Linked DNA regions of Homo sapiens: region 1 is reported to be linked to region 2. Evidence: microRNA targets listed by miRTarBase, many of them from high-throughput screens and not tested one by one. Region 2 holds a microRNA gene; the other region holds the end of a gene's coding sequence.

Evidence for each region. Region 2 holds the annotated microRNA hsa-miR-3150b-5p (CAACCUCGAGGAUCUCCCCAGC, at 935-956, shown strand). A microRNA usually pairs through its seed, bases 2 to 8, with sites in the 3' UTR of a target mRNA and lowers its output. Matches are read on the target gene's strand: a 7mer-m8 pairs with bases 2 to 8, a 7mer-A1 pairs with bases 2 to 7 and ends in A, and an 8mer does both.
Region 1: the mRNA of RFX2 is a reported target of hsa-miR-3150b-5p. Seed matches in the 3' UTR shown: 7mer-m8 at 2,743-2,749.

Annotation. Positions count from the first base shown.
Region 1 is chr19:5,992,065-5,995,064 of GRCh38, forward strand. RFX2 (regulatory factor X2) reads right to left here. Exons shown (of 18, transcript NM_000635.4): 18 at 1,100-2,886. The coding sequence ends at 2,771. All of the region lies in intron 1 of RANBP3-DT (RANBP3 divergent transcript), which reads left to right. Among named protein-coding and RNA genes, the nearest start is that of RANBP3-DT, 15 kb to the left of the region's middle.
Region 2 is chr8:95,070,704-95,073,916 of GRCh38, reverse strand. MIR3150B (microRNA 3150b) reads left to right here and starts at 921; the gene lies at 921-1,006. MIR3150BHG (MIR3150B host gene) reads left to right here and starts at 735. Exons shown (of 2, transcript NR_132986.1): 1 at 735-988. MIR3150A (microRNA 3150a) reads right to left here and starts at 1,003; the gene lies at 924-1,003. LOC124901980 (a long non-coding RNA gene) reads left to right here and starts at 1,664. Exons shown (of 2, transcript XR_007061013.1): 1 at 1,664-2,171; 2 at 3,100-3,213. It also overlaps a transcript of NDUFAF6 not described here. RefSeq lists a silencer at 429-528.

The DNA of each region.
Region 1 (3,000 bases), not on the chromosome of region 2:
CGGGGCACTGGCCTGGCACTCGGGAAACTGGCCTGGCTGACCAGCAACTGTACTAGCCTCTGTGGGCCACCCTCCCTCCCGCAGGTGGGCCCTGCCTGGTTCCTGAGCCCATTGCTCTCCTCTGTAGGGTTTCTTCAAAGTCCTATAGCCCCGCACCACAGTCCCCTGAGAGGGAATGGCAGCAACAACACGCTTCCTGGCTCCTACCCGAATCTCACCGAGTCATGCTCCTTGTGAAATGGGTCCAGGAATCGGCCATTTTTGAGCAAGCTCATGCACTGATTCTCAATGATTCTGAAGTTTGGCCCGAGTAAACCCTGCGGACAACCAGGGGTTCGCATCCGAGACTGGCACACCCGCTTCCTCCGCTAGATCCGAGTGGGTCTAGCCTGTAACAAATGTAAACAGGAGGCTGGGGCGGTGGCTCACGCCTGTAATCTCAGCACACTGGGAGGCCAAGGTGGGAGGATCGCTTGAGCCAAGGAGTTTGAGTCCAGCCTGGGCAACACAGGAAGACCCCCATCTCTAAAAAAAAAAAAAAAAAAAATTAGCTGGATGTGGTGGCGCACGCCTATAGTCCCACCTACTTGGGGAGGCTGAGGTGGGAGGATCACCTGAGCTCAAGAGGTTGAGGGTGTAGTGAGCTATGATAGTGCCACTGCACGCCAGCCGAGGTGATAGAATGAGACCGTCTCTTAAAAAAACAAACAAACAACAGAAAAAAACCCAAAGTGTAAACAGGAGCCATTGACCATCCTGGACAAAGAACGGTTTCTGCGCCATCACTGGCTCAGGATAGGCCTTGCTAAGGAAGTAAGGGGCCCAGGCTCCTTCCGGAAGGCACTAGAACATCCCCAGGGAGCCCGCAGGCAAGTGCAGGGGGCACCTCTGTGGTTTCCCCTCTGGGTCTTGAGTGGGGCAGGCCCGGCAGGCTGGTGTCCCACGGCGGGGGGACAGGGCCTAGAGTGTGGACAGTGAGTCCAAAAATGGGCACGCTCAGTGTGTTTACTGCTATGAAAAATGAGACCAGGCCTGAGAGGCTTGTGGCTTCGCTGCCACCTCTGTTCCTCCTCGTGGATCGGAAAGACAGGCCAGAGCCTAAGGCAGAAACCAGCTTGTATTGGTTACCAGGAGTGAGGAAAAGCCGGGCATTACAATCCGTTAACTGTGAGCTTCAGTGTCTCCAAGGAGAGGAGATGTATATTTTAAAGACATTCTTTCTGTCTGATTTCAACTAAGGTTTGGGCTATACGACCAGACAAACAGTGTGATTATTCCCAGCTTTTCGTTTCTAAAGTGAGCACGCGTCTTTGTCTTCCTGCACCCCTCACTCTGGCGCAGGCCCAGCGATGCTCTGAGCTCCTGCGGGCGGGGAAGTAGGTTTTTAAAGGCCACGTGAGCTGACATTAGTACCTTCTGTGTGAATGAGAACAAAACATTTGGGACTGAATATACTGCAATGTACACATTCATAAGAAACGTTCTAATAACAATTAGCGCACAAAACTATTGGTATAAACATTTTTCCAAAAAGAGAAAACTATTGCATTTCGTTAGAAATCGCGTCCTGGGCCGAGGCTCGTCTTTCTTCTCTGCAGTTGGTTTGGGGACAGAACTCCAGCACGCAGCTGTCCAACTGCAGCGGCTACGTGTTTCCATGGAGACAAACTTGGTGTCTCAAGTTCAGGGCTTCGAAAGTCCCGAATATTTGTTTGTCCCGAGAGAAGAGTTTTGACTTTGAAGAGGTCCAGGTGGGACTCGCTGGGGGTGGGGTGCTCCGGGATTAGTTCAGAGGGAGGTGTTCTGGAAGACTCCGTGGAGCGGGACGCAGGCACTGCTGTTTGGACGACACGCGGGATGGCTGCTTTCTGAAGTTGTGGCTGTGACACTGACCCTGTTGGACAAACTCCTTCCACAGCCAGTGGCTTGATGGTGACGGTGAACTTGGACAGAGTCCCACATCCTTCCTGCTGCTGATAAAACTTCTGGTTTTGATTTTTTGAAAGACACTGCTGTGTCCTGGCACGAGCGAGCCCGTTTCTGTGGCTTGTTCTTTTTCGAGCTGCGGATCTGCCGGGACACAGCGATTGTCAGCTGCCCCTCAAGTCCTTTGGCATCTGGAGATGGGTTCCTGCAGCACAGCCGGCCTCCCGCCTCGGGGCATCCGGCAGGGAGGTCTGGATCTAAAAGGCCACAGGGCGCTGCGCCCAGCTGGGTCCCTCCCACATGGTGCTACCAGACAAGGGCACTCCACTTTCCATTCCTGAGGGGACTCCAGGGACGCTGGCGAGCTCTGTGCCTCCCCAGCGGTGGCAGGTAGGAGGGGAGAGGCCGTCCCTTTCTAGTCGGGCTCTGCCAGGTTTTTTTAATTTTTAAAATCATGGTGAAAATTGGTTCCAGTTGAGTGCAGAGGCCAGTGCTCTCAGCACAGCCCTTTCAGCTCTTAAAGGGACTGGGGCCAAAGTCCAGGGTTCCAGCAGAGGAGGGTTTGTCCAGAATAAGGAACCCATGGTCTGGTGGGGCCCTGGTGGCTGCGCAGGGACCTGGGGACCCAGAGCACAGCTACAGCCAGTGGGAGCCCTGGCCTGGGCTTCTGTAGCTTCAACAACTGCTTTCCTTCTTGAACACTGACCCCGGGAGCCCCCGCTTGAGTCAAAGTAAACATCACATCATCTAAGAGGCACTAATTTGGTGGAGCCGGTGAAATCCAGGTTCCCAGAGTGACCAGGCGGCATCTTTTGGAACCTCGAGGAGGCGCCGGCCGGGGCTGCTAGATGCCCTGCAGGGAGTGGTTGGGGTCACTGCGCTCCCGCTTTACCAGGGGCTCACCCAGGCTGCGGGCGTCTGGGCCCGCCTCGCTGCCACGCTGCTCATCGCCCATGTCATCTGCGGAGGGAGGGGTAGGGTCAGTGTCCATCATCAGGAGGGCACGAGAGGGAGAGAAGGAAGTGCACGTTCCGAGAACTGCTCCGGCACGCCAGGCAGGGCACCGAGGATACA
Region 2 (3,213 bases):
TTTCCACTAAAGTTTTAAGTTTCCATTAAAAGCAGTTGATTTGAATCAGGATTCAAATTAGGACATCAGGTTGGGATTGGTTGGCAGGTTTTAAAGTCTCTTTTACTCTTTGGGTTTCTCCCCTACCCTCTGGAGAGAGCTCCCCACACCGTGGCTTTGCTGACTGCATTCCTTGGGTGGACTTTCACTTGTGCCTCTGTCCTCGACATGTCCTGTAAGCTGGAAGCCGGGATCAGATTCAGATCCATTTTTATTTTAAGTGTTATGCAAAAAGACACCCAGTGAAGGTGTTAGAATGAGCCATGGCAGTGGATGGGGTTCGCAGGACCCCTGCGGAAGGGGGACGTTTAAGGGGCAAGCGGAAAAGGAGACACCTGGAATGGGGGAGGAGGAGCAGCGGGGCGAGGCGGGGGCGGTGCCGCGTGGTCTGCGAGCCCGGATATTCCCTGGGGAGCGCACCTGCGACTTCACCTCCAGTCCCTCCCCGGCTGGGGCAGCGGGGCGCGGGCGCTCGGGAGAGGTGGCGCTGCCTACTCGGCCTCATCTTGCTGAGAATGCGACGGGGCGACAGCTTCCTGTCTTTTCCAGTGGCTTTTGGCATCCCCAGAGGAAAAAACGGGGAGACCCGCTTTGGCCTCAGGAAGCGCAGAAACACTGTCCTGGCTGCGCGCGCAAGGGCGAGAACCTAGGGGACCCGCCTAAAGCGCCGTTGGGGCTGAGCACCGAACTCGCACAGCTCCGGGCAGCGACCCGCGATGCGGCATCCTTCCGTCCGGTCGGAGCCCTCCTAGCCCTCAGCGCGTCTATTCCTAGCTTCGGTCCCCGCAGCCATATAAGCAATGACACCCTCGCCGACTCGCCTGCCAGCTTGGCCGCCTCCCTGCAGAGGGCTGACGCTTCTCCAGAAGTTGTAAGAAAAGGAGGGAAAGCAGGCCAACCTCGAGGATCTCCCCAGCCTTGGCGTTCAGGTGCTGAGGAGATCGTCGAGGTTGGCCTGCTTCCCCTCACTCCTCGGGCCTTGCTCTTCCCCCAGGTGCCCACTGCCCTCCCTGCTGTGTACCACTTTCTTGCTGCCTGTGAAGGTATTTGTCCTCACTCTTGTGCTGCTCCTTCAATGATAGAACTTTGGGACTTTCTCATCCAGCAGCACCAGCCTGAAAAAGCAGTGGCTTGCACCACCACACACATACCTGGTCTCAGGTGGGTGGATCAGGGCAACTTGGCCACTAGTGCCCCAGTAATGCCCATCTGCCCAACCTCAATGCAGGAGCAACAAGTATTTCTCTGTCTTGGAGAGATCTAGAAAAAGGCTGAACATACCACGAGGGTGTTGCTTCAGAAGAAAATGCTGGTCAGGGTTCCAAGCCATCATAGGAACTTGTGAGCTGAGAAACATGGTCAACTCTACTCTCTCTCTCTTCTCTACCTACCCAGGCAGCCACAAATCTCAGTGTCAGTCACTGCTTTGGTTTGACATCTAAGGGCTCTGTTACAAGGGTAACTAAGATGAGTACCAGTAGATGCCCAATGACACTTGTAAACATGAAAGTGTATACCAGTATAAAGGATGCTGCAGCCTCAGCCTTGAAAAGTAAGGCTTTTAGGGAATGAAACAAAGGATAGTCAGGTTCTTAGGGGACAGGGAGGGTTCTGGCATGGGGAGCAGCCCTGGGCAGGTCTGGGGGTGCTGCGAAGTAGGGCACCGCAACATAACGGCCCTGTGTCTTAGGTGGCCAGGAAGGGGAAGGCAGGAGATACAGAAGGAAAGGAAACTAACATTTTATTGAGACAGGCATTGTGCTGGTCCTGAGGTTTATGCGAAGATTAATTTCTGGGGGTGAGAAGGTAAAAAATGATGAGGTGGAAACCAGCATCTTCTGTTACTCCCATCTGTGCAGAGTTAAAGAAGACTTGAAAGAAGGGGATGTGAGTGGCAGGAAAATCCCCAGTGACCGGCCCTGAACCTTCTGCCAGCGCAGCTCACCTCCTCCCCAAATGCCTCCCAATAGGATCTCAGCCCTAAACAAGCACAGGGCGTGGGGTGGTACAGATGATGATGTAGCTGCTTCTGAGATGCCCCTGGGCGCTGCTGGAGCTGAGCCCTGGGACTGGAATGACTTTTGCCCGCTGCCCTCAAAATTCCCACAGGCCACACCGCTACCACCTCTTGGGTAAAGTAGGAGGGACACATCTCCACCACCATCCAAATTGTTACCTAATGAGGAATTTTGCCAGGAACTACTTACAGCCCAATGGAGCCAGGCTGGGTATTTCCAGGACATGAGCCATTTTCTCTGTGCCCACTAAACAGGGTGCAGGTCCCTGAAGCCCTCAGGGAAGCTGCAAAGGTTACTGGGGTCGGCTCTGGGGCAACAGCTGACCTCTTAGCTCCCACTGCAGGCGTAGGAACCTCCAGGACAGCCTGTGGGGGTGGTGAGTCTGCAAAGCTGGCTGGCTAATGAGGGTGCAGTGCTGGTAGTGTCTGCCTTATGCTTTTTTTTTTTTTTTTTTTTCTTTTGGAGACGGAGTCTCGCTCTATCGCCCAGGCTGGAGTGCAGTGGTGAGATCTCGGCTCACTGCAAACTCCACCTCCCAGGTTCACGCCATTCTCCTGCCTCAGCCTCCCGAGTAGCTGGGACTACAGGCGCCCGCCACAATGCCCGGCTAATTTTTTTTTTTTTTGTATTTTTAGTAGAGACGGGTTTTCACCGTGTTAGCCAGGATGGTCTTGATTTCCTGACCTCGTGATCCGCCCACCTCAGCCTCCCAAAGTGCTGGGATTACAGGCTTGAGCCACCGCGCCCGGCCGGTTGCCTTATGCTTTAATATTAATCATATGGTATGAACACATGCAAAGCTAGCTGGTTTTACTGTTTAGGAAAGTAGATTTAATTTCTATGTGATCTGGATTATCACCATTATTATTTCCTTGGTATAGAAATTGCTTTTTACTGCTTGTGTTTTTCTAAAATTATATTCTCCCTCTGACCAAGGCAAGTAATAAAGGGCAGATGACTCGGGGAGGGGAGGGGAATAGGAAAAAAATCATGGGAGATATGCTTCAAAACCAATAGAGAGTTTTTCTGTTTTTAATTTCAGTTGAATTGCAAAGCAAAGACCCATAGAAGTGAACTGTGATACCAGAAATTCTCTGCCCAGCTTGAAGTTGTTGATATATTATAATCCTTATGTGTGACGTTAATGGTTTTAGTA